Homo sapiens: one gene and its partners. The protein of the gene in region 5 purifies or fractionates together with the protein of the main gene of each other region. This does not show direct contact. Each region holds a gene or a part of one and is shown on either strand. Other genes may lie near its edges.

Region 1 (3,500 bases), on a different chromosome or scaffold from region 5:
AGTCATTGCGGTTTTTGGCATTACTTTCAATGTCAAAAAATGCAATTACTTTTACACCAACCTAATAGGATGGTAGCAGCTTAGATGAAAAGAATATTTAGAAATTCAAGTTGACAGAACTCAGTGATTGGATGGGGGAATGAGAGAAAAGTGTCAAGGATGACTCATAGGTTTCTCACTTTTGCAGTATGATGAATAGTGGTACCATTCCGAGAGATATAGCACACACTGGCAGAGGGCCTGGATTCTTGTTTCTGGAGGGAATGGGAAGAAATACTAAGTTTGTGAGCTTGAGTTATCTTTGAGACATAAAACAAAAATGTCAAGCAAGCATTGGATACCCAGAACTCAGAGGAGTGTGGGTAGAAGACGAAATTTCGGGAGTCATTGGACTACAGATGATGTAGCATAAGGAGAGAAAAAAGAGGAACAAGGAAGGAGAAAAGTCCAAATAAAGCCTTGAGGATGTTCAGGTTAGAGAAGGAGGCGACTGCAAAGGATGCGAGGCTGAAAGAGTCAGAAAGGCAGAAGGAAAACTAAGAAGCCAAGGAAGTGACCAAAACACTTCAAAAGAACACCAAATGCTGCCTGAAAGCTGAACACTGCTCAAAACAAAACAAAACAGAACAAAACAAAAACTTCCTGAAATTTGTGATAAGAATGGAGATCACTTGTGACTTTAACAAGAACTATTTATGCAAAATAGAAGCCACACTACAGCAGTTTGAGTAAAAGGTAAGGAAGGAAAGACGGCAATTATAAACAATACTCTCAACAAGTCTGGCTGAGGAAGGAAGGAAAGAGCTTGTACCTGGAAAGGAATGAGAGTTAAATAAAATATTCCGCTTTTTCTGTCAGATAGAAGCTACTCAAATTTCTTTAACAGAAGTAAACTATTGACAGGAACAGTTAAATATCCAAGAAGAAAAATGAAAATCATAGGACCTCAGAACCAAACTGCCAAGTACTGTTTACATCTACACTGTCCAATATAGTAATCAAAGGTCACAAGGAGCTACTACTTCAACACCATTGAAATGTTTGTCTGAATTGAGATGTGCTGTACTGTATGTGAAAAACACACGGGGTTTCAAACTTTGTACAAAAAAAAGAAATTGAGATATCTCATTATAAATGTTTTAATATTCATTATATCTGCAATGAATGTTTTAGACACAGTGTCAAATAAAATACGGTATATTATAAATTAATTTTGCCTGATTCTTTACTTTTTTAAATGACATATGTAGTTCATATTATATTTCTATCGGACAGCACTGATAAAGACCTTAAATGGTAACAGGCCATAATCACAACAACTGCTAGTCCAAACTTCGGACTGGGGTCCTCAGTCCAGACATGCTCTGTGAAGTTTCCTACCTCTTTCCAAGACCGTCAGCCCTATAGCCCAATTCTTGAATTGCAGCTAAATGTTTTAATCACCCCCTTCCTCTCATCTTGGCTACTGCAATGGTTCCATTAAGATGATAATGGGCTTTTACCAAAGTGGTTGTGACTGATACAATGAGAGGTATTGAGATACTGGATGTGTTTCAAACGTATAATTGTTCAGATTTGCTGATAGTCTGGATGGGGATGTATGGACAGAGTAATACCTATTTAGAATGGAGTTGATATTAATGGAGAAGTCTGTGGGAAGGGCAGGTCTCTAATGATTAGGGTCCTCTAAGTCTTTCCCCACTGGAATACTCAAGCCTGCCCTGCCAAACCACCTACGCTCCCTTGCAAAAGTCTCCAAAATGGCTAGCATACCATACCAAATTCTGTTTGAAACTAAACTGATGGAAGAACTAATTCACACTTACCCAACAAAGAACTATCCCACAGGTTTCCAGAATTCTGAACCTAGATGAATATCTAATTTGTGACTATTCAGAAAAAGCACAGAATTTTTTTAAAAATTAAGGCAGGGAAATTTCTGAGTCCAATGATACTATGAGTGTACTAGCCATAATTAGCTTCTGCTGAGAGTCAACATTCCACTAAGCTATTTTTTCTTTTTGGCTTTCCCCCTTCTTCCAATTAGAAACCCCCAAGTTCTCTACCAGCTCCAAGTTTTTCATAATAGCTTTAAGCTAGTGTTGGTAGAGATCCTAGTGAAAATGGAAAAAGACAAAGGAGGGCCTCAGCTGATAGTAGCTTTCATGGTTTAAATGAGACACCACTAATGTTTTTAACTTCAGTATTTTAAGTAATTTTCCTTGTTGCTCACCCTCAGTGGGCTTTCACTTTGTGGAATCAACCCACTAGTTCCCTACCCCTTTGTACAGTATTTGAAAGACTACTAGTTTTCATGGTTTTACCTGAAGAGCAAAAGCACATTTTTACGCTAAAAATGAAAGCTGTTTTCTTAAGTTCTACTATTTAACAAACCAGTATCTGCAATTTTACCTGTTTGCCTCATTGGAGAACTAATTTGTAGAATGAAACCCTATCTTGAGTCCATCTCCCAAACCTGCCCTTCTCACAGACTTCTCCATTAATATCAACTCCATTCTAAATAGGGGGAAAACCCTAGTATTACTCTGTCCATACATCCCCTCATCCAAACCATCAGCAAATCCCAACAATTCTACCTCTGAAACACATCCAGCATCTGAACACCTCTCATTGTATCAATCACTACTACCTTAGTAAAAGTCATTATCATCTTAATGGAACCATTGCAGTAGGCTTCTAACTGGTTTCCTGCCTTCTACTCTTGCCCCCTTACAGTATATTCTCTACACAACAATCAGCGTGGTATTTTGAAAACATAAGTCAGATCATGTCAAATCTGTGCTCAAAACCCTACAATGCCTTCCCCTAAATCACTCAGAGTAAAATCCTAAGTCTTTATCATGATCTGCAAGGTTCTGCGCTATTTGGTCCTCACTACCCCCTGACTTTATCACACTGCCTCATCAATTCGGTCTTGCTGACCTCCCTGTCTCTCCATCACACCAAGCACACTCCCATCTCAGGGTCTTGGTATCTGTTGTTCCTCTGCCTAGAGTGTTCTTTCCCTGGTATCTGCATGGGGGTCACCCCTTTCTAGAGCCTGCTCACATATCAGAGGTCTTCCCTAACAATGCTAAAACAGCATCACCCAGCCATCATCTAGCCACCTTTAATTTTCCTCGCCCTGCTTTAATTTTGTTTGTTTATTGTCTCCTACCGCTAGAATGAAAGCCCCATGACTTTGTTTTGTTTACTGCTATATCCCCAGCATTTAGAACAGTGTTGTTGTTGATGTTCAACAAGGATTTGTTGAATAACTAGGTTCACATTTATTTCACTTCAGCATAGGACTATACTATAGACTTCCCAAATATATATATGTAACATATAATGAAATATCATTGAAAGCAAACACACTCCACACATAAGAACCAAGAAACTCTATTTTGGTCCTTTAAATTCTAGTCTCACAGGATTTTAAAATGTATGAACATAAATACACACAGAGAAGATATCAATTTAGCAGTGTACTGATTTTT
Region 2 (3,500 bases), on a different chromosome or scaffold from region 5:
TTCTCACTATTGTCCTACCATCCTCTCTCACCTGGAATACTCTAATAGCCTGCAAGATCTGAACACTGCCTCCCTTTTTGCCCTTATTTCCTACTGGCTTTTTTGCAGTTGCTGGAACATGCCAAGTTGATTCCATTCTTAGGGTCACTGTACTTGCTCAAGTTGTCTTTGCCTAGAATAATAATCTCCCAGATCTATACAGGTATGTTCTCATCCTTTGGGTCTCAGCTTTTATTTTTCTTTTTTAGTGACAGGATCTCACTCTGTCACTCAGGTTAGAGTGCAGTGGCATGGTCATAGCTCACTACAGCCTTGAACTCCTAGGCCCAAGCAATCCTCCCACCTCAGCCTCCCAAGTAGCTAGGACTACAGGTACACACCACGATACCTGGCTAATTTGTTTTTATTTCTTTGTAGAGACAGGGTCTTGCTATGTTTCCCAGGCTGGTCTCGAACTCCTGGGCTCAATCAATTCTTCCACTTCTGCCTCCCAAAGTGCTGGGATTACAGGTGTGAGCCACCATGCCTGGCCTCAGTTTATATGTCACCTCCTCACAGAAACCTTCCTTGACCATCCCAACCAAATAAAATAACACCTCCTTCCCAGCATTCCCTATATCCTTATCTGGCTTTATTTTCTTCATAGCACTTCAGACTTCTGAAATTATATTACTTATAAGCAAAACTATTATTTACAGTCTTTCTTGTACTTATTATATTTCCATTATCAAGAACGATGCTTAGCACATACAGTAGAGGTTCAGTAAATTCTTGCTAAAATGAGTAATAACCCAATTTCTACCCAAAATCAGTGGATTAAGACAGAGTTTTAAACAGCATTCTAGGTACCATAACAGAAAGGTTTAGAGTATTCTGAGAGTGGAGAATACACTGCAGGCCAACGTGAAGTAGGAAGCTGCAACGTTAATAGAAAGGGAAAAGGTAACTCAGGCAAGTGAAAGATCACAGTATAGTCCAAGACCCAGGAAAAGGTCACACTAGGTTCCAAGGGTGAAGTTGTAGGAGATAAGGCTGGAGTGAAGGATTAGTTTTTATGCAATTCCAAGAAGTCACGAGTTCATCCTCTAAGCTACAGTTACCAAAGGCCTAACTTCCAAGGCAGGAAAGGGCAGGAGGTTTGCCATTTCAGTGGTACAACTAGGTAAGAGGTGGTGCTTAAAGGACATACACAGACAAATCTAAGATGAAATCTGAGAAGGATCACACAAAAGGAAGGATGATATACAGGAAGATGGAGAAGAAAATGGAAAGATAGGAAGCAGCAAAAAATCTGACTTTGGGTTTTTTAGATTTGAGATTTTTATAATATGTCCAGATGGTGTGTCCAGCAGGCAATTAGAAATGTGGTTCTCAAGTACAGGAGAGAAGCCAAAATTGGAAAAATAAATGGGGCAGAGTGAAAGGTCTACAGTACCTCATTCTCTGCTGAATTCCATTTATATGTTCAATAAACGTTTGTTGAATATGTGCTTTATCTTCCTAACTAGATTAAAATTATTCAAGATGTTCTACACTTTTTGTGTACTATCATAATACCTAGCATAGAATTAGGCACATACAGGAAGTATCTAATAAAGTTTTTGATGGACAGAATGGTTTTTATTTTAAAAAGTTATTTTAACAAAAACTTTTCCAAGAAGAATTAGCTTTGACTTTTGTTGGACAAAAATTTTTGTTTCTTTAAAAGACATTTGAGGCCGGGCACAGTGGCTCACACGTGTAATCCCAGCACTTTGGGAGGCCAAGGCGGGTGAATCGCTTGAGGTCAGGAGTTCGAGACCAGCCTGGGCAACATGGCAAAACCCTGTCTCTACCAAAAATACAAAAATTAGCTGGGTGTGGTGGTGTACACCTGCACAGCTGTAACTCAGCAAGCTGAGGCACAGCTACTCAGCAAGCTGAGGCACAAAGAATCACTTGAACCCAGGAGGTGGAGGTTGCAGTGAACCAAGATCGCGCCACTGCACCCCAGCTGCGGCAACAGACCGAGAGTCCGTCTCAAAAAAAAGACAGTTGAGGCCGGGCACGGTAGCTCACGCCTGTAATCCCAGCACTTTGGGAGGCCGAGGCAGGCGGATCACAAGGTCAGGAGATCAAGACCATCCTGGCTAACATGGTGAAACCCCATCTCTACTAAAAATACAAAAAAAAAAAAAAAATTAGCCAGGCATGGTGGCGGGCGCCTGTAGTCCTAGCTACTCAGGCAGCTGAGGCAAGAGAATGGCGTGAACCCAGGAGGCGGAGCTTGCAGTGAGCCAAGATTGCGCCACTGCACTCCAGCCTGAGTGACAGAGCGAGACTCTGTCTAAAAAATAACATAAATAAAATTAAAAAAAAACAGCTGATACATTTGATACATTGCTGGTAGAAATGTAAAATGGTGCCAACACTGTGAAAAACAGTTTGGTGGTTCCTCAAAAAGTTAAACACAGCACTGCTATATGACCTAGTAATTCCGCTTATACTCAAAGGACTAAAAACTGTAACTCGAACAGATATTTGTATACTAATGTTCATAACAGCACTATTTACAATAGCCAGAAGGTGAAAACAATCCAAGTGTCCATCAACAGATGAACAGATAAAGCATGGTATAACCATAAAATGGAATATTATTTGACTATTAAAAAGGAATTAAGTTCTGATACTCTTCATCTACAACATGGAGGAAACTTAACACCCTTATGTTAAGCAAAAGACAGACACGATGCAAACAAATAAAAAATAAAAAAAAAGAGCTGGATCTAAAAAAAAAAAAAGGACACAAAAGGACAAGTATTGTATGATTCTACCTATACAAAATATCTAGAAAAGGCAAAATGGGCCAGGCAGGGTGGCTCATGCTTATAATCCCAGCACTTTGGGAGGCTGAGGAGGGAGGATTGCTTGAGCCAAGGAGGTCAAGGTTGAAGTGAGCTATGATCATGCCACTGCACTCTAGCCCAGGTGACAGAATAACAACAACAACAACAAAAATATATATATACACAGAGAGAGAGAGAATAGGCATATACATAGAGAAAGAAAATAGAGTTTACTGGGTACTGGGGGAAGTGGTGTTACTGGTTACAGAGTTTCCATTTCAAGTTTTGGAAATAAATAGTAGTAATGGTTACACACCATTGTGCACGTACTTCATGCCACTGCATTGTACACTACATTAATATTAGATGAAGGAGATTTCAGGGACAAAAACTTTACAAAATGCAAACTAATCAGTCCTCAAGTTCATTTCCTGACACCTCCACCAAAAGAAAGAAAGAAAAAAAGTTTATACTAATTTATAGTGACAGAAAGTAAATCAGTGGCTATTTCGGGATAGGAAGTAAGGTGGGGTAGGAGAGAGAGATTACAAAGGGGCATGAGGAGATTTTGGGGATTGATGGATATGTTCACTATCTTGATTGTGGTGACAGTTTTATGTATATATATAGAGAGAGTACCTTTGAAATATGTACAGCTTATTGTATGTCAATTAT
Region 3 (3,500 bases), on a different chromosome or scaffold from region 5:
GTTCAGGAAACAAGAGACTTGGCTGATTGACAGTGAGTTGGAGAGGGACCTCTCTGGGGCTTGGGGACAGAGGAGGGGTGATAGTGAGTCCAAAGAGCATGTGCAACGGGTCGCATGGCGATCAATGTCCAGGACACACATTCCTAGTGTAAGTGATAACCTGCAGAGGGTGACTGTGCATCAACACACAGCGGCACGACTTAAGCAAAGACAAAACAAAAATGAATAACAAGAAAAAAGTTCCTACCTTCTAATGCCCAAAATATGTTAACAGGCTTGGAGAAGACATCCTTGCTTTTCACCCAGCTGTTGTTCCGCTGTTTGGTCCAGGCAGACACAACACAGTAATAATTGCCTCTGTCTTCCTCTGTAGTCCTTTGGATCCGGAAATTGAACGTGTCTGTATGTTCCTTAGAAAAAATAAAGTCTCCATCCTGGGCCCGCTGCTTGCTCCTCTCTCCATATTTTAGCGTCCAGTCCCCGTCCATGACTGCAAGCAGCTCGCTGGTCACCACATTGTCGCTGCGCCGGTTCATCCTGTAGTACCACGAAACCGTGAATCGGACATTCGCCTCCCCACTCTTCGTGTCCACCACCCGGCATGCCAGCTCTGTGGGGTCATCCGCAAACCCGGGGACCTTGGAAGCATTCAGGTACACCTGGTAGTCTGGTTCTGAACGAGAGACAGAAAGGCCAGGATAGGAAAATAATTAGAGTAACATGGCAAGAATTAACAAAAGGAATGAGACAAGGACTGCTCTTGTTTTAACAATTAAATGCTTCTCCTGCCGGACTAGAGAGACAGAAATCAGTCGTTGCATTGGATAGGATCCTAGAACAGTGTTTTTGCAAAACTTGTAAAACACCGCTTCTCATACCTCCCACCCCAAGAAAACCTCCCAAGAACAGAAGCCCAATGTCCTCGGCCAGAATCTTGATCCTTCCATGGCACTGGGGTCTGCTGTCAGTTTCCCCAAGAGGTTAAGGTCTTCTGAGAAGAATCTCTTAAGAAGCTCAGTGTCCACCCCCTACCAAGATTGCTCTGGAATGCCAAGTAAGCCCACAGACCTCCAACACCCCCACTGGAACAGTATCGGAAAACCCCACCCAACAGTAAATTCCAGAACTCGAGGCCCATCAGTGGCACAGTGGCTCAGCTTCCTGTCATCCTTGGCCATGCCCTAAATGCAAGGCCCTCAGGTCATCATTCCCCCTACATATTTATGTCCTCACTTTACCGTTCCTCTGACTTTTTCTGCGGAATCTGTGTTCAGTGGTCAATAAGCACTCCCATCCTCAAACTCTCCCACAGACATTCTCGCTACTGCCACATGTAACTCACCTGTGTCACTGTGAATCTTGCCCTAGTGAGCACCCCATGTCCCTGCAGAGAAGGGTGGGAGGGAAGCCAGCATTCTCCTAGCATCCCCTTGCCTCTGCCACGGTCCTGTTTCCACTGGGAGAAAAACCCCTCCTTCCTCTGGGGTTCACTGCATCAATTTAATCCATTTCTGCACCTCCATGGTTCTGTCCTCCTTTGCCCCAAGGCTTCCTCCATACCTGCCAAGGAGCTGATGTTGGAATCCTCTTGTGGCTTCCTCTCCTTTCCCCCAGCTCCTCTACACCTGATTACTCGAGGTTCTCCAGTCTCCACACAGTCTCACGCCACTGTGATGATGTGAGATGCACTACAAACTTCCACTTATTCTTCAATGTCACCTGGTCCTGGGTCCCCAGAAGGGATATACTCTGTGCTCCCATAAGCCATCTATGCACTTTTGTATGCCAGTTAGCCCACTCCACAATGACTCTTTGCTTATAGTCTCATCCTCAAGCTCCAAATACACTGCCTTTTATGCAGTAGGCACTCAGTAAATGTTTACTGCCTGAATGTTCAGGCTTTTAGAAAAGGCTACATTTTTCTTCTTCTTCTTCTTTTGTTTTTTTTTTGGACAGTCTTACTGTCCCCAAGTGGAGTGCAGTGGCGCGATCTCAGTTCACTGCAACTGCCTCCCAGGTTCCAGCGTTTCTCATGCTTCAGCCAACCAAATAGCTGGGAATTCAGGAACATACCACCACACCCAGCTCATTTTTGCATTTTTTTAGTAGAGACAGGGTTTTGCCATGTTGGACAGGCTGGTCTCAAACTCCTGACCTCAAGTGATCTGCCCACCTCAGCCTCCCAAAGTGCTGGGATTACAGGAACGAGCCACCGCACCCGGCCTATAAAGGGCTACGTTTTTCTTCCATAGCACTTTGCCTTCTGGGAGAAAAATAATACTACCTAAACAGAACTCTCCATTTATCAACATTATCTTTATCTGCATCACCTTGATCAAAGTTTGGTTTTATTTAACATTGTTTTCATTTATGACATACAGATTACAAACTGCTGAGGTCAAGGAACTTTTCTTGTGATTTACACTTCTAATGGAATTTATAACATCATGATTTCTCCAAGAATGATTCAGTGGACCAGAAAATGCAAAGAACTCAAAATCCTAATTCCTCAAATGTCATCTTCACAAGTATTTAATTGCTTGTGCCCATCCATGGGAGTACATCGTACTGTGATGTGGACACCATAGAGAAATCCACAGGCTGTGGGACTGCCAGGGCTAGAGAGGAATCCACTGGCCATTCTGACTGCTCATTTTACAGGCTCATATGCTGTCACACTGCTAGGGGATGTCCTGAACCTGAGCATGGTGCTAATACACCACACCACACATCACCCTAGCAAAAACTGACTGAAGGACACACACCACCCAACTGTGTTTACACCATCATATGCAAAAGATAAGGAATGCTCAAATTACTCCACATCTAAACTTTCATGTCGAATTCAGGATGCAGCAATGTGGGTGCAGAGCAGGACAACTAAGTCCATCTCATGTGGAAAGGGCAGATTTGCACCAGCTGTGCATAGGGTAAGACTGCCCCAGAACACTGAGCATCAACTATCTGTAGGCAGCAGCCAGCAGTGGCTCTTACATGGAGCCTCAAGTCCATTTCAAGCACAACACATAAGACCCTTCCTGTGTGGCATGAGACTGTGTGGGGACTGGAGAACCATAACCCTGAACAGCAAACTGTGAGGCAGCAGAGAACAGTGGTGAGGAGCTGAGGTCTGGAGCCAGACTGTGTTCAAATCCTGGTTCTGCCACTTACTTGCTATTGACCTTGGGTAGATTACTCAGATCTCTGGTGCCTCACCCATACAAATGGGGATGACAGTAACTAGCTCATAATGTTATTGTGAGGGTTAAGAGTTAAAATATACTGTACTTAAAATGCCTAGACTGGTGCCTGGTGTGTGTGTGTATGCAGGTACACACATATTCATATACACATACACGTGTATATATTTGTGATCATTATTCACAGTTCCCATTTCTGAGGGGAGAGCTTTAAAGAAGTTAGTGACTTGGCCACACAGTTCAAAAGTGGCAGATGGGAACGGAGCCCTGTCTTCTACCACCTTTCAAGTGCATCCTTAG
Region 4 (3,500 bases), on a different chromosome or scaffold from region 5:
GTTAGCCAGGACGGTCTTGATTTCCTGACCTCGTGATCTGCCTGCCTCGGCCTCCCAAAGTGCTGGGATTACAGGTGTGAGCCACTGCGCCCAGCCAAGCTAAGGGATTTTTCTACCTCCAGGCTTAGTTAGAGAAGAATTCTGAAACCTCTGAAGTGATCATTCCACCTTGAGATCCTATGAGATGGCAAGAACTTGAAAACTTGAGTGGGGGTGGGGAGGGAAGAGGAGAAGATGAAGATGAGGAGCTGGGGGGTCTCCACCGTTGCTTGTTCCATCTCATGTAGAGGAGGGGAGTTCTGCAGGCTGTGAGAATGCACCAGGAGGGTGTGCCGGTACTCACCTGGCCCCACAGAAGTTCTCCAATCCCAATGAAGAGACACCACAGCCACTGAGACAGGCTGAGGCTTGTACAACTGAAGGGTTTACCCCCAAATTCCACGATGAAAATCTAGAACAGAGAAAGGGGCAGCCCACCATCAAGGAAATGACTAACAGGCAGCTGGCCCTCCAGCCAAGGCCCCCAAAGCCACATCATCCCACTCCTCAGGATCCTTGGGTACAAGTCCCGATTTGCTTGCAGGGGAAGGGAAAAGAAGAAATCTCAAAGGGGAGACAGACAAAAACAGCCTTTAAGAGCACTCTGATGGGGAGACAGACATAGTTACTGTGACTATGATTAACAGACAATCTGGAGGAGTTAGGGGAGCTGGTGGCTTCTTGTGACTAAAGCCAGTTAGTGACAAGGAGAAGGTACAGTGATGGAGTTAGGAACTGAGGATGAGGTGGGAGGATTGCCTGAACCTGGGAGACTGAGGCTGCACTCCCCCTGGGGGAGGGGGGAAAAGAGAGAGAGAGAGAGAGGCAGAGGGAGAGAGAGAGAGAGAGAGAGAGAGAGAGAGAGAGAGAGATATCTGTCTCAAACGAAAAAAAAAAAAACAAAAAGAAAAAATGGCAGGCGTAATAACACTTTGGGAGGCGGGAGGATTGCTTGAGGCCAGGAGTTTGAGACCAGCCTGAGCAACAGAGTGAGACCCCATCTGTATTTTTAAAATTAAAAAAAAAAAAAAAAAGGAATTGAGGATGGGGACAAATAAAGGGAGGTGCCCTGCTGAGGGATGGGACATGATCAGCTCATAGTCTCATATTGGAGGAGTCCAAGCTGGGCTGACTATGTAATATACATGTACAAATCCCATTACTTCTCTTTCTTTGAGTTGCACAACACTTTTTATCATAAGCCCTTCAGAACAAAGGGCAGGGACAGGGAGAGTCTATACTAGATGTGCATGCACATTTCATATAGGCTGACAGGAGCCATAGAAAGGGACTAGAAGAGAATACTTCTTTTGGTCATTCTGTGAAATTTCTGTGTATTTAGAAAGATCATGAAAGGATTTTAGAAGTATTATTTTATTTCCAGTCAACATGCTGCCCTGCACTGGAGCTCTTGACACAATGGGCTCCAATTCTAGAGCAATATGCAAAAGAAAGCAGATTGGGAATCCCAAAGTGTTCAACTTACAGCTCCAGTCCCCGTAATTCCTTCATTCCTTTTCCTAGGTATGTAGGGAACCCTGGCTCCCAGCTTCTGCCCTTTATCATTCCAGATCTCCTGCCCCAACTGCAGATAGAATCTCACCTGGCAGATGAATGTGCCCAAGACTACAGAGCAGAAGATAATGTTGCGGTAGATGCCTGAAAAGACGTTCTTCTCTCCATGGATCTTTCGGGAGTTGATTTCATTGAAGAGCTGCATCAGCACGAAGGTGTTAAAAACAATGGTATAGTGCTGGCTGGGTGGTGAATGTAGAGGTGCCTTCCTCCCACTATCAATATCAAAGAATTTCTCACCTAGTGGGGAGAGGAGAAGCACTGGAGGTTAAGTGTGGTCTGAACTAAGAGTAAGAATGTGTTGGTACAGATATACTGCTTGCTTATGGCTGGTGTCCATTCTAATTAATCAATATCTGAGCTGCACTAGTTATTTATTTTTTTGACACAGGGTCTCACTCTGTCACCCAGGCTGGAGCGCAGTGGCATGATCATGGCTCACTGCAGCCTGGACCTTCCTGCTCAAGTGATCCTTCCATCTCAGCCTCCCAAATAGCTGGGACTACAGGCGTGCACCACCATGCCTGGCTAATTTTTTGTTGTACTAGTTATTAAACATTTTAAATGTTAGTTCTGGTCTTGACTTATTTTACCTTCTCTCTCAGTTTGCTGCATTGATACTTGCTCTCATGTAGTGCAGCATGGTAGTAAGACTATGTGCGCTGGAGTCAGGCAATCATAGGTTTGAATTTTACTGCAACTATGTACTCATTATGGGACCTGAGGTTAATTTTTTGAATCTGTAAAAAAAGAAATAAGCCAGGCGTGGTGGCTCATGCCTGTAATCCCAGCACTCTGGGGGGCTGAGGTGGGCAGATCACAAGGTCAGGAGATCGAGCCCAGCCTGGCCAACATGATGAAACCCCATCTCTACTAAAAATACAAAAAGTAGCCGGGTGTGGTGGCGCATGCCTGTAATCCCAGCTATTTGGGAGGCTGACGCAGGAAAATCACTTGAACCTGGGAGGCAGACGTTGCAGTGACCCGAGTTAGCGCCACTGCACTCCAGCCTGGGTGACAGAGCGAGACTCTGTCTCCAAAAAGAAAAAAAAAAAAAAAAAAAGAAAGAAAGAAATAATAAAGCCTCCCTTGTGAAATTCTTGAGTACACACAGTACACACTGTACTCAAGAGTACTGTATGAGTACATATAGTAGCATAATGCACCGTGTAGCGGGAGCACAGCAAGCACTGGGAGGTGAAGCTGCGCTTATTCCTGACCTGTGCACTTGCTCTCACGCTACCTTCTTTCTCTGCCCCCACCTCCAACCAGGACCCCAGCTGCTACCCACCCCCAAAGTGGCTCACCCGCAAAGACAAGGATAAAGATGACAATGAGCTGATAGAATGCATGGCCCAAGATGTTCTTCATCATAGTGCGTGAGATCAGAGGCTTATTTCGGCCATAGGGGCGCCGCTTCAACAGAGATTCCGTAGGGGGCTCTGTGGCCAGGGCCAATGAAGCAAAAGTGTCCATGATCAGATTAACCCACAACATCTGCACAGCTTTCAATGGGGAATCCTGGCGGGGAGAAGAACCAGTCCTTTTAGCTTTTCTCTGAAACCAGCCCACCTTTGCCCTGTCGATGGCCCAGCTCCCACGACCCACCTAGACTTGGAATCTGGCCACTTCCTAGCTGAGTGACTGTGAGAAAGCTACTTAACTTCCTTGAGCCTCAAGTTCCTCACCCATAAAATGGGGATAATAATACCTACTTCACAAGGTCATTTTTGAAGAATACAGATAGTGCATATAAATGCTTATTACAGTGGCTGACACATAAGTGCTAAGCTAAGGCCTGTAAGTTACCATCTACATAAGCAGATGAAGACAGCAGACTTAGAAGAGCTAACTCCTGTCCCAATGTCATGGGGAAACGCTGTCTT
Region 5 (3,336 bases):
AATTCTGTTTTAAACCAAAGACCAGTTATTAAAATGATTAAAGCTGTACATTTGCACTGTGTAAAGAACATGTAATTTTCTAAAAAGCAAATAATTTCATAATACAGTACCTAGGAAATTTTTCTGAATGGAAAGCAAATAAATCAGAATGGGTTCAAACTGGAAAATATCCTATGCCTGATATTCTATGTACTATCACAAAATCTAAAGGTAAGCAAGACAATAGATGTTGAATTTTTTGCCTCATTGTCTTCGATCATATTTCCATTCATCTGTAATGCCCCTACAGACTCATGAAAACCCTTCGAGGTTTTCTTACAGAGGTTTAGAGCCACTCTGAGGACACTTTATCCCTTACTATAGATAATGGTTATCTCTTTCCTGCTCTTCCAGTTTGCTTTCAATACCTGGTAAAGGCAAGCCAGCTATATAGTTAACAGCCATCAAATACCTGGCTTCCTCATAATTAACCAGAAGCCCTAGTTCCTCTAAAACAGCAAGAATGAGATAAGGTAGTTAATATTCAGTATCTTGTTGCTAAGTTGTAAAGTCATGATAGTAAATGTGGTAAACATTCTATGATGTGAGCCAGAACCAATGAAATTGCTAGTTTAGCTTTTTGACCCTGTTCCTTCTCCCTGGAGGTTAATGCAAACACAAGTCCTCTTTGACTAACCCCATCCCTGAGTTTCTCAAAGTGCGCTCTATAGAGCGGTAACACCAGAGTCATCAGTAGGTATTCGTATTTTAATCTGCACTCTAGACCAACTAACAAAGATTGTCTGTGTATTTTGATTCACCCAGTAACAGTCACATTCAACCACAAATGATCTTCCAGTGATTAAATTTGTAAGGAAAAAACAGCATAGAATTTGTATTTGACTAAATATACAATGTTGTCATCTCTGTCACCTTAAGCACTTTTTTTTTCTACACAGTTCGTCATATAGAATTTGCAGGACTAAGCAACAGTTTTTTTTAAGTTTACTACCATTAACCATTTCAACCAGAATTAGTTTTGATCTGCCAGTCTCAATCTACATCTCTAGCATTATTAGAACTAAACTTTCCAGTGAAATGACTCTAACAAGACAAGGATACCAAACTGGGTATTCAGTGTGCGTTAGGGGTTGTGGGAGGAGGAGAGCAGATATTTAATAAATCATGAGTGCTGTGTGCACAGGATAAGGTGTGCTGGGTTCTATGTGATGTTGGGAGGAAATACGGATAAGGACATAGGTAGAGGATGTATATATTTTGTAATTTGCTATGAGACGGGCATTATTGTACGGGGAAGTTCTGTGCTTACAGAAATTGTCTAGGCTGTGTGGAAAGATGGGTTGGCTTAGGATAGTGACTACCATTGCAGAAGCAGAGGAGGCTGGCTGAGGTGGAGGGAATGAGCATTTGAATGTGAAATTATCAGATCAGAAGTGAAGTCCATCTCTTGATTGCAGGATGTGGAGCAAGGTGACAGACACTGAGACTGTTTATGGATTCTTGCATAAACCTGTGTACATGGCTTGAATTTGTGCCATTTAGGTACTGTCCATAAGACCTAGAGACAGTTCCACTAACCTTAGGGGCAGGCATCTCAGATGGTTTCAGGACATGGCCAGCTTCCTTGTATGATATGTAAGTACTACATAACCAGTGGTGACAACCAGGGCCAAGCAGCCCAGGACAGCCATAATTAGCATGTATTTTCCTAAATAAAGCCTCACCCCATCCTAGCCCACCTCATCAATCAAACTACTTCCAATAGTAAAGGTTGATTTATAATGATGAAGTTTTTAACTTGTAGAATCTCTTCAAACCCATAAGCAAATAGTATCTGCTCAAAAGACGGGTTCCCAGGCCTGCCACTGATCATCTGTAGAACCTGAACCTCAGTTTTGTCTATAAAAAGGGGAGAGCAATATTCCTTATCCTGCCTTCAGCCATGAAGATTAGCTGACATAATACATATCAAAGTATAGAATAAGGTGTGTTACCGTTTACTATGAGTGCCATGATGCTTAGCAAAATTATATGGGAATATGTATGGATTTATGGGATAATCCTATATGATGGTATAGCCAAGATTCTAAATATGTAGTTTTTAAAATTTTACTAAAATTCAAAATAGCACTGTAAGACAGGGCAAGAAGAAAAAAAGTAGGCCATTCTTTATTCAAAAACCAATCTACAAATAGAGTAGACTTGTTAATTTTGCTCTCCTTACCTGTTTGCATTGGGCTTCACCGTGCCCAGAATTGTTATCAGCATGCGAGGCACCACTCCCCCAGGCAAAGGCAGGTTATAAGGCACAATCTGGGAATTAACAAGTACATATGTGTCAATAAGGAGTCATGTTTCTTTGGGGAAAAAACGATGTTGCTAAAGTTCCATCACTATTAATATGTGTGAAAAACACATAACTCTAGTATATGCCATCTGTCCAGACTCTCAGGCCACTTTGCCCAGGGGCCAAAGAGATAAGGCTCCCTAGATGTACAAATAATTGAAAAGAAAGCCATCAGTAAATCTCATTACTACGGCCATCCCAATTTGTACTCATTCATGTTGACTATTTTTGGAAAGGCTTAAGCTAGATCTTGTGATCAACATTAACATTTTTGTATCACTCTTAAGGCCCTGTCATGGTACATGCTTTACTGTGGATATTCTGCTTCCTGGGGGCAAGCAGCATATCACATTCTGGGCTTGTGGGTTCTCATATGCTTTGTACTCACATGGCTCCAGCAGAGTGCTTTGCATATGGCAGATACTCAATATTTATGGAATGAACACTGTTAACACTGTGAGGTTCATTCCACAAATGTTTATTGACCAACTACATTCAAGGTACTGTGAATATCCCCAAAGCTCTATTTATTTATGGCCTCTTTTCTTTCCCTTTTTAAGACTTCCCCCTGGGTTTAACTATCACCCAAACCTTTTTATTTTTTGAGACAAGGTCTCAAAAATCCGAGTCTCAGTTGTTGAGGATGGAGTGCAGTGGTGTGATCATAGCTCACTGCAGCCTCAACCTCTTGGACTCAAGTGATCCTCCTGCCTCAGCCTCCCACAGTGGTGGGATTACAGGCATGAGCCACCACACCCAGCCTATCCAAATATTTTCTTTCTAGTCCTGGTGTGTACTAGTCCTGTACTTCCTCCCACCTAGATTTGCTGCTAGTGCCTCAAATTCAACAAGTGTGAACTAGAATGGTCTTCCCTACCCCCTCCCCCATCAGTTCCCCTTCATGAGTTCCCAGTTTGGGCTAAAGCTTTGCTGATGGCTCTAGTTGCTCAGCCTTGAAAAGTCAGAGTCCTCTATGACTCCTAAGACAT
Region 6 (3,500 bases), on a different chromosome or scaffold from region 5:
TGTCTCCGGGCCCTACTTCCCCACTCTCCTGGGCCTCAGCCTGCAGGTGCTGGAGCCACCCCAGCATGGAGCCCTGCAGAAGGAGGACGGACCTCAAGCCAGGACCCTCAGCGCCTTCTCCTGGAGAATGGTATGGCTGTGAGAGAGGCCCAGGGGCTGCAGCCCAGCTCTGGGGGCAGAGTGGAGGGAGCCCTGGGGACTCCCAGTCTGGGGGTTATACACAGAGAGGAGACGGGGAGTCACATTTCAGAAGCACCTATGCTTTAAATACCATATATCTTTTCTTCCTCACAACTCCTCGGAGCCAGAACTTATGGTCCCCATTTTCTACCAATGGAAAATGAAGCCCTAAAAGAGTCAGTCTCCTCCTGCACCCAAAGGCAGGGCATGAAGGGTGCTGCTGGGGCCTGACTGCCAGCCCTGGGCCTGCCCCTAGGTGGAAGAGCAGCTGATCCGCTACGTGCATGACGGGAGCGAGACACTGACAGACAGTTTTGTCCTGATGGCTAATGCCTCCGAGATGGATCGCCAGAGCCATCCTGTGGCCTTCACTGTCACTGTCCTGCCTGTCAATGACCAACCCCCCATCCTCACTACAAACACAGGCCTGCAGGTGAGAGCATCCCTGGGAACACCCCCATGTCTGCTTCGAGAAAGAGGCCAGCGTCCCCTACTTCGCGGCTCAGAGCTCCCCCAGCTCTGATCCTCAGTTTCCTCCTCTGCAAAATGGGGACGCTGCCACATGCCTCACGGGGTTGTTGGAAGGAGAGAAGTGAGATTGTGCTGAAATAGAACACAGGTGGGAAGTTTTTTTATTGGATGTTTGCAAGTATGGTAGGCAGACTTCTGAGCGGCCACGGGTGGCTCTGCTGTTCCTTCTTCTGTGGCTAAGGACCAGAACATCTGACAGAATCACTTACAAGCCCTTAAGGGCAGGCATCAGGGCGGAAGCTGTTAAGTTTCCCACCTTCACCCAGCAAGTGAAGGCCATGGCTTGGCTCCCCAAACTCCTGCACAAGGCTGTTCCACGCCCAGCAGGACAGTGCAGGGAAGGCCCTGGTGAACTTCGCTCAGGCAGAGGTAAGGGCCCCACTCTGCAGGTGGAAGTTGAGGCCCAGACGTGGGATGGAACTTCTCCATGGTTGCAAAAGTAGTTCTGGTGGAACAGAAAGGGCATGGCTTTACAAAGCCCACATGGCAGGGCTTTGAACCCCAGCTTCTGGGGTGCATCCTCCCCGGTCAGCAGGAGCCACTGAAGTTTCCATAAAGGGCTGACTTGGGCTGTCTCTGGCATGGGGTGCCTGGGGCGGGGGTGGGGGCGGGGCCTTGGTGGTCTAGGATGTGCCCGTAGCGGGTGGCCTGGTGGTGCGGAAGCCGCCAAAGAGTGGGACACAGTGCTCTGGAACCACAGGCCAGGACGGCTGTGTGGCAGCACAGCCACCAGGTGGTGCCATCTACCTGTGTTTGCTCCAGAAGCCTAGTGCTGGGGTCCTGCCCCGCAACATTATGGCCCCTCCTGCCAGGGCTGGGCCTGAGGGCTCCCTGGGGCCGGGGGAGGAAGCCCAGGAATGCCAGAAGGCTCTGTTTTCCGGGCATGTGAGTCCCACTGCAGCTCTGCCCGCAAGTAATTGACCCAGCAAGACTGGTACCAGGACCTCAGGAACAGGCACCTGCTCTGCTTGCAAGTGGGAGGCCTGAAAAAGGGGTCCCCTTTGCCCAACATAAGGAGGGCCCCTAACTGCTCTGGAAGCACCTGGGCCCATCCCACGCTGATTCTGTGCTGCAGAACAGTGCCAACCATCAGCCCCCCACTCTCTGCGCCACGCACCCCTCCCTCAGCTGGAAGGAGGGCCCATTTCTAAAATCACCATTCCCACCTGTGCCCGGCCCCGGCCAGGCACACACGGAGGCTCTGAAAGGAGACCCCTGTCCCACCAGTGAGACAGATTAGGGAGCACTGTTGGTCAGCGCTGGGGGTTTCTGGGAGTGAGAACTTGGTGAGGGTAAGAGCTGGGGCCTTCCTGGGTAGGGGACATAAGCTGGCCTTGAGGGACACACAGGACTAGGGCAGATGGAGAGCAGGGAGGCTGGGCCTGGAGGGTGACCTTCCCTGGGGCCTTCCCTGGGGTGACAGGGAAGGTGAATGCGGGAGGCCCTTTGTGCAGGGGAGCCAGAGTGGCGCCAGCCTCGATGCCACCCGAGGGGCTGAGCCGCAGCAGGACTGGAGCCCTGGTGGCAGCCCAGGGCCGGGGAGGAAGGGGTGGGTGAGTGCGGCAAGGCAGAACCTTCACAGGCCTGTGTTCCCAGATGTGGGAGGGGGCCACTGCGCCCATCCCTGCGGAGGCTCTGAGGAGCACGGACGGCGACTCTGGGTCTGAGGATCTGGTCTACACCATCGAGCAGCCCAGCAACGGGCGGGTAGTGCTGCGGGGGGCGCCGGGCACTGAGGTGCGCAGCTTCACGCAGGCCCAGCTGGACGGCGGGCTCGTGCTGTTCTCACACAGAGGTGGGTGCTGAGGGCCGGGCCTCGGGTTCCTGCTGCCCACGGGGGTGCCCTGAGATGGGGAGCCGGCTCGGGCCAGCTGGACCCAATGCCCCTGTCCCCAGGAACCCTGGATGGAGGCTTCCGCTTCCGCCTCTCTGACGGCGAGCACACTTCCCCCGGACACTTCTTCCGAGTGACGGCCCAGAAGCAAGTGCTCCTCTCGCTGAAGGGCAGCCAGACACTGACTGTCTGCCCAGGTGGGTGTGCTGATCATGGGCATTCCTGGGTGCCAGGAGCTGGGGCGGAGCTGAGGGTGGCATGCCAGGGTCACGCTGCCTCTTTGCAAACACAGGCCTGGACCTGGCTCCCAGTCAAAATCTGATATCCCCTTTTGCCTCTGGCAGGGTCCGTCCAGCCACTCAGCAGTCAGACCCTCAGGGCCAGCTCCAGCGCAGGCACTGACCCCCAGCTCCTGCTCTACCGTGTGGTGCGGGGCCCCCAGCTAGGCCGGCTGTTCCACGCCCAGCAGGACAGCACAGGGGAGGCCCTGGTGAACTTCACTCAGGCAGAGGTAAGGGCCCAACTTTGCAGCCACCACTCAGATGCCCCCAGCCTCAGGTGGCCGCTGTGCCATGGACATCATGTGGACATGGATGCCAGCTCCAGCATCACTGGCAGCAGACGTTCCCGGGCCTGCCATTGTCCAGGCGCTAGTGTCCTGTCCTCCAGGAGCCGCCAGGCTGGCAGGGCAAGTTCATGTTCCCAGAAGGAGGGAGAAGGATGCAGAAAGTCGGGGATACAGGGCCCTAGAGCAGGGCTGGGGTCTTGGGGTATAGCTTCCAGAAGGAAGCTACAGCCGGACCCGAGGGTCTGGAGAGGGGGCACCATGTGGGGGCACTAGTGGTACCCCAGTAGCTGATGAGGGGCAGTGCTTGGTGGGGGATGGAGTTGGACGTGAAGCAGCGGCTGGGCCTGTGGGCAGAGGTGTGAGCCTGGGGCTCAGGTCAAGTGCCAG
Region 7 (3,500 bases), on a different chromosome or scaffold from region 5:
TCTTACTCTCCTTGGTATCTGTTCCTAGTAGCTAAGTATCCTCGAACAAATAGTTTGGCATCTCTGGCCCTACATGTCCTCATTTATGCAATGAGAATTCTACCGCACAGGCAAGGTCAGGTGGCATAATGTATGTGAAAGTACCCTGAAAATTGTCATTCACTATACAGTTCCTGGTAGGAGATTATTTGTGTGAAATTTCCTGTTACCCCTGAGAAATTAAAGAAAGAAAAACAATCCTGTGTTACATGGGCCTCTTTGTGGGATAATGGGGATGAGCAGTATTCGCTTTTCTTCCCAATTAGATGGTCCACATACCTTTTTTCTCTAGCCTACCTTCCTTATGTGTATTATTAGACTTACAAACCCACCCAGAGAGTTTGGACACCTGTCCACAATGGGCAGCAAAGTCCCACCAGGCTTTCCCACAGAGACCTCCCGTCCCTCTGAGCTGGCCCATGGGTGAGTGAGGCCCAGCCCTAAGGACAGCAGCACCCCCACAGCTTTGGTGGACAGCACAGGCATGCCAGCTGGGGTACAACAGAGAGGAAGCTTACAGGGAAGTTATAGGCTTGGTTATGGGGAGAGAATTAATACATCAATCTCCTTCAGTTCTTTATCCCACAATACCTTAACACGGTGCTTGTCATATAAGCCTTTAATAAATATTTACCAAATTAAGGACAAGAGGAAATAAGTAAGAGGAAATCCTGATCCTGGTCTACACAACTTTCCTGCTGATGACAACACAGGCCCAGGTGACTAAGAGAACCCAGTTTAATCATGTGAGTCACTGTGAAGAATAAGCCCCTGGCTGTCAGTGTCACCATGAAGGACATCAGTGGGGCACTAAAACGTTGTGCACTGTTACAATACATTCTAAAAGCTTGAAGAAGAAGGGTGAGCTTACTGAAGAACACACAGTATATTGGCTTGCTTGGGCTGCCATATACACAGTACACAGTACACGGACTGGGAGGCTTAAACAACAGACATTTCTTTCCTTACGGTTCTGGAGGCCGCAAGTCCAAGATCAAGGTGTCAGCAGTGTTGTTTCCTCCGAGGCCTCCCTCCTTGGTTTGCAGGAGTCCATCTTCTCCCTGTGCCCTCAAGCGATCTTTCCTCTATGTGTCTGTGACCTAATCCCCTCTTCTTTAAGTACACCAGTCCTATTGGATTAGGGTCACTCATGTCACCTCGTTTTAACTCGATGACCTCTGTAAAGGCCGTGTCTCTTAATAAGTCCCATCCTGAGGTGCTGGGGGTTAGGACTTCAGCATAAGAATTTGGAGGAGGACATAATTTAGCCCATAACAGTCTACAGTAGTATGATAAACAGATGGTCTTTCCCTGCTGTATATACTTTGTATGCTAGGTTTTTTTAATTTGGAGATTTTATAAGAAGAAAAATTATTCATAACTATCATTCACAGTGGATTTCATGTTGACACCTTTTTCTTTTATGCTTTAGGTCCACCGGGCCCCAGGGGTCCAAGAGGTGACAGAGGATCCCAGGGACCCCCTGGCCCAACTGGCAACAAGGGACAGAAAGGAGAGAAGGGGGAGCCTGGACCACCTGGCCCTGCGGGTGAGAGAGGCCCAATTGGACCAGCTGGTCCCCCCGGAGAGCGTGGCGGCAAAGGATCTAAAGGCTCCCAGGGCCCCAAAGGCTCCCGTGGTTCCCCTGGGAAGCCCGGCCCTCAGGGCTCCAGTGGGGACCCAGGCCCCCCGGGCCCACCAGGCAAAGAGGGACTCCCCGGCCCTCAGGGCCCTCCTGGCTTCCAGGGACTTCAGGGCACCGTTGGGGAGCCTGGGGTGCCTGGACCTCGGGGACTGCCAGGCTTGCCTGGGGTACCAGGCATGCCAGGCCCCAAGGGCCCCCCCGGCCCTCCTGGCCCATCAGGAGCGGTGGTGCCCCTGGCCCTGCAGAATGAGCCAACCCCAGCACCGGAGGACAATGGTAAGTCCAAGCCCTCCCTCCAGCCAGGGGGACAGGGCAGTGCATGTGCTTGAGACTGAGCCAACCCCCAGTGTGTGGCCCCACCCATGTTATTTTTGTTTTTGTTTTTGTTTTGAGACAGGGTCTCACTCTGTTGCCCAGGCTGGAGTGCAGTGGCGTGATCTCGGCTCACTGCAACCTCCACATCCCGGGTTCAAGTGATTCTCCTGCCTTAGCCTCCCAGGTAGCTGGGACTACAAGCGTGTGCCCCCACAGCCAGCTAATTTTTGTATTTTTAGTAGAGAGGGGGTTTCACCGTGTTGGCCAGGCTGGTCTCAAACTCCTGGCCTCAAGTGATCCACCTACCTTAGTCTCCCAAAGTGCTGGGATTACAGGTGTGAGCCACCACGTCTTGTCCCCCGCTGCATATTATTTAACAGCAAAGGCATCATAGGGGCTGGCACAGGAGCCCTGCTGCCAGAACAGGCCTCCATACCAGGCATGTGTTTCTCTCTAAACGCCATTGGGTTCTCTAGTGCTCATTTGTTTTATGTATTATGTGTGTATGTATGGGACAGGGTCTCACTCTGTCACCCAGGCTGGAATGACGAAGTGAAGTAGTGCAAACATAGCTCACTGCAGCTTTGACCTCCTGGGCTTAGGTGATCTTCCCACTCAGACTCCTGCGTAGCTGGGACCACAGGGGTATGCCACCACACCTGGCTAATTTTTTATTTTCCTTTTTGTAGAGACAGGGTCTTGCTATGTTGCCCAGGCTGGTCTTGAACTCCTGGCCTCAAGCAACCCTCCTGCCTCAGTCTTGCAAAGTGCTGGGATTCCAGGTGGGAGCCACTGCACCTGGCTCTTGCACTTGTTTATTTATAGGAGCCAGCCCTCAGAAGACAAACACAATGCAAAACATTTCCTTCAGGGAAGCCTGCTGGCCGCCCTGAGCGCTCTTCCCTCGTTTTACATCCTCACTCTGGAGATAGATGGGCTCCCTCGGTTAGCTCCATCAACATGTGGATGGAACCCTCTGCTATTGATGACTACATTTAATTTCTTTTTGAGAAAGGTGTTAGATGTTACGGTGCCTTCTAGTCTTTTGATAATTAAACCTTTGGCAAAACTCGAATGTTTGGTTAGCAACCAAGCCTATTTTTCTCTCCTTTGACCCAACCGCTATTCTACTTGATTTTGGTCGGTGAGGCCCGGGTTATTTTTGTTGATCCGTGAGCCCAGTTTTGGTGCTGGGTTCTCACATCCAAGTGTTCCTGGGTTCCGTATGATTCCAGACTGACGCTGAACATCTGTGCCTGCCCTGCTTCTTGTTGTTGCTTCTGTTATTTCTGTCATTGTGAAGACGGATCCAGACACAGAAGAACAAAGACCCAGTCAAAGATCTTTTCCAGATTATGTGGTTTTGGCTTGTGCTCTGCAGTCCACTTTGGGTCATGCTTGCTGCGAGCACGTCCGTGAACGTCAGCTGTGGGCCTCGTGCAGGGACGCTCAGGCTGCTCCCAGCGGGACCACAGTTTTGGCCTCTGAAACACAGCTGAAG

The links.
Region 1: the proteins of LGALS3 (region 5) and SLC12A2 purify together in Homo sapiens (affinity purification with mass spectrometry; 5 studies listed by BioGRID and IntAct, with this or other methods). This does not show direct contact.
Region 2: the proteins of LGALS3 (region 5) and SLC26A2 purify together in Homo sapiens (affinity purification with mass spectrometry; 4 studies listed by BioGRID and IntAct, with this or other methods). This does not show direct contact.
Region 3: the proteins of LGALS3 (region 5) and PTGFRN purify together in Homo sapiens (affinity purification with mass spectrometry; 4 studies listed by BioGRID and IntAct, with this or other methods). This does not show direct contact.
Region 4: the proteins of LGALS3 (region 5) and ATP2B4 purify together in Homo sapiens (affinity purification with mass spectrometry; 4 studies listed by BioGRID and IntAct, with this or other methods). This does not show direct contact.
Region 6: the proteins of LGALS3 (region 5) and CSPG4 purify together in Homo sapiens (affinity purification with mass spectrometry; 4 studies listed by BioGRID and IntAct, with this or other methods). This does not show direct contact.
Region 7: the proteins of LGALS3 (region 5) and COLEC12 purify together in Homo sapiens (affinity purification with mass spectrometry; 4 studies listed by BioGRID and IntAct, with this or other methods). This does not show direct contact.

What each region holds. Positions count from the first base shown.
Region 1 is NC_000005.10:128,090,266-128,093,765, reverse strand, and holds part of SLC12A2 (solute carrier family 12 member 2), read right to left. Parts: intron 1-3,500. UniProt on the Homo sapiens protein: Cation-chloride cotransporter which mediates the electroneutral transport of chloride, potassium and/or sodium ions across the membrane. Plays a vital role in the regulation of ionic balance and cell volume.
Region 2 is NC_000005.10:149,967,258-149,970,757, reverse strand, and holds part of SLC26A2 (sulfate transporter), read right to left. Parts: intron 1-3,500. UniProt on the Homo sapiens protein: Sulfate transporter which mediates sulfate uptake into chondrocytes in order to maintain adequate sulfation of proteoglycans which is needed for cartilage development.
Region 3 is NC_000001.11:116,958,416-116,961,915, reverse strand, and holds part of PTGFRN (prostaglandin F2 receptor negative regulator precursor), read right to left. Parts: intron 674-3,500; coding exon 248-673; intron 1-247. UniProt on the Homo sapiens protein: Inhibits the binding of prostaglandin F2-alpha (PGF2-alpha) to its specific FP receptor, by decreasing the receptor number rather than the affinity constant. Functional coupling with the prostaglandin F2-alpha receptor seems to occur.
Region 4 is NC_000001.11:203,720,832-203,724,331, reverse strand, and holds part of ATP2B4 (plasma membrane calcium-transporting ATPase 4), read right to left. Parts: intron 3,136-3,500; coding exon 2,922-3,135; intron 1,855-2,921; coding exon 1,643-1,854; intron 452-1,642; coding exon 344-451; intron 1-343. UniProt on the Homo sapiens protein: Calcium/calmodulin-regulated and magnesium-dependent enzyme that catalyzes the hydrolysis of ATP coupled with the transport of calcium out of the cell. By regulating sperm cell calcium homeostasis, may play a role in sperm motility.
Region 5 is NC_000014.9:55,139,252-55,142,587, reverse strand, and holds part of LGALS3 (galectin-3), read right to left. Parts: intron 2,314-3,336; coding exon 2,225-2,313; intron 5-2,224; coding exon 1-4. UniProt on the Homo sapiens protein: Galactose-specific lectin which binds IgE. May mediate with the alpha-3, beta-1 integrin the stimulation by CSPG4 of endothelial cells migration.
Region 6 is NC_000015.10:75,681,849-75,685,348, reverse strand, and holds part of CSPG4 (chondroitin sulfate proteoglycan 4 precursor), read left to right. Parts: coding exon 1-130; intron 131-436; coding exon 437-613; intron 614-2,307; coding exon 2,308-2,506; intron 2,507-2,607; coding exon 2,608-2,742; intron 2,743-2,889; coding exon 2,890-3,056; intron 3,057-3,500. UniProt on the Homo sapiens protein: Proteoglycan playing a role in cell proliferation and migration which stimulates endothelial cells motility during microvascular morphogenesis. May also inhibit neurite outgrowth and growth cone collapse during axon regeneration.
Region 7 is NC_000018.10:333,202-336,701, reverse strand, and holds part of COLEC12 (collectin-12), read left to right. Parts: intron 1-1,471; coding exon 1,472-1,960; intron 1,961-3,500. UniProt on the Homo sapiens protein: Scavenger receptor that displays several functions associated with host defense. Promotes binding and phagocytosis of Gram-positive, Gram-negative bacteria and yeast.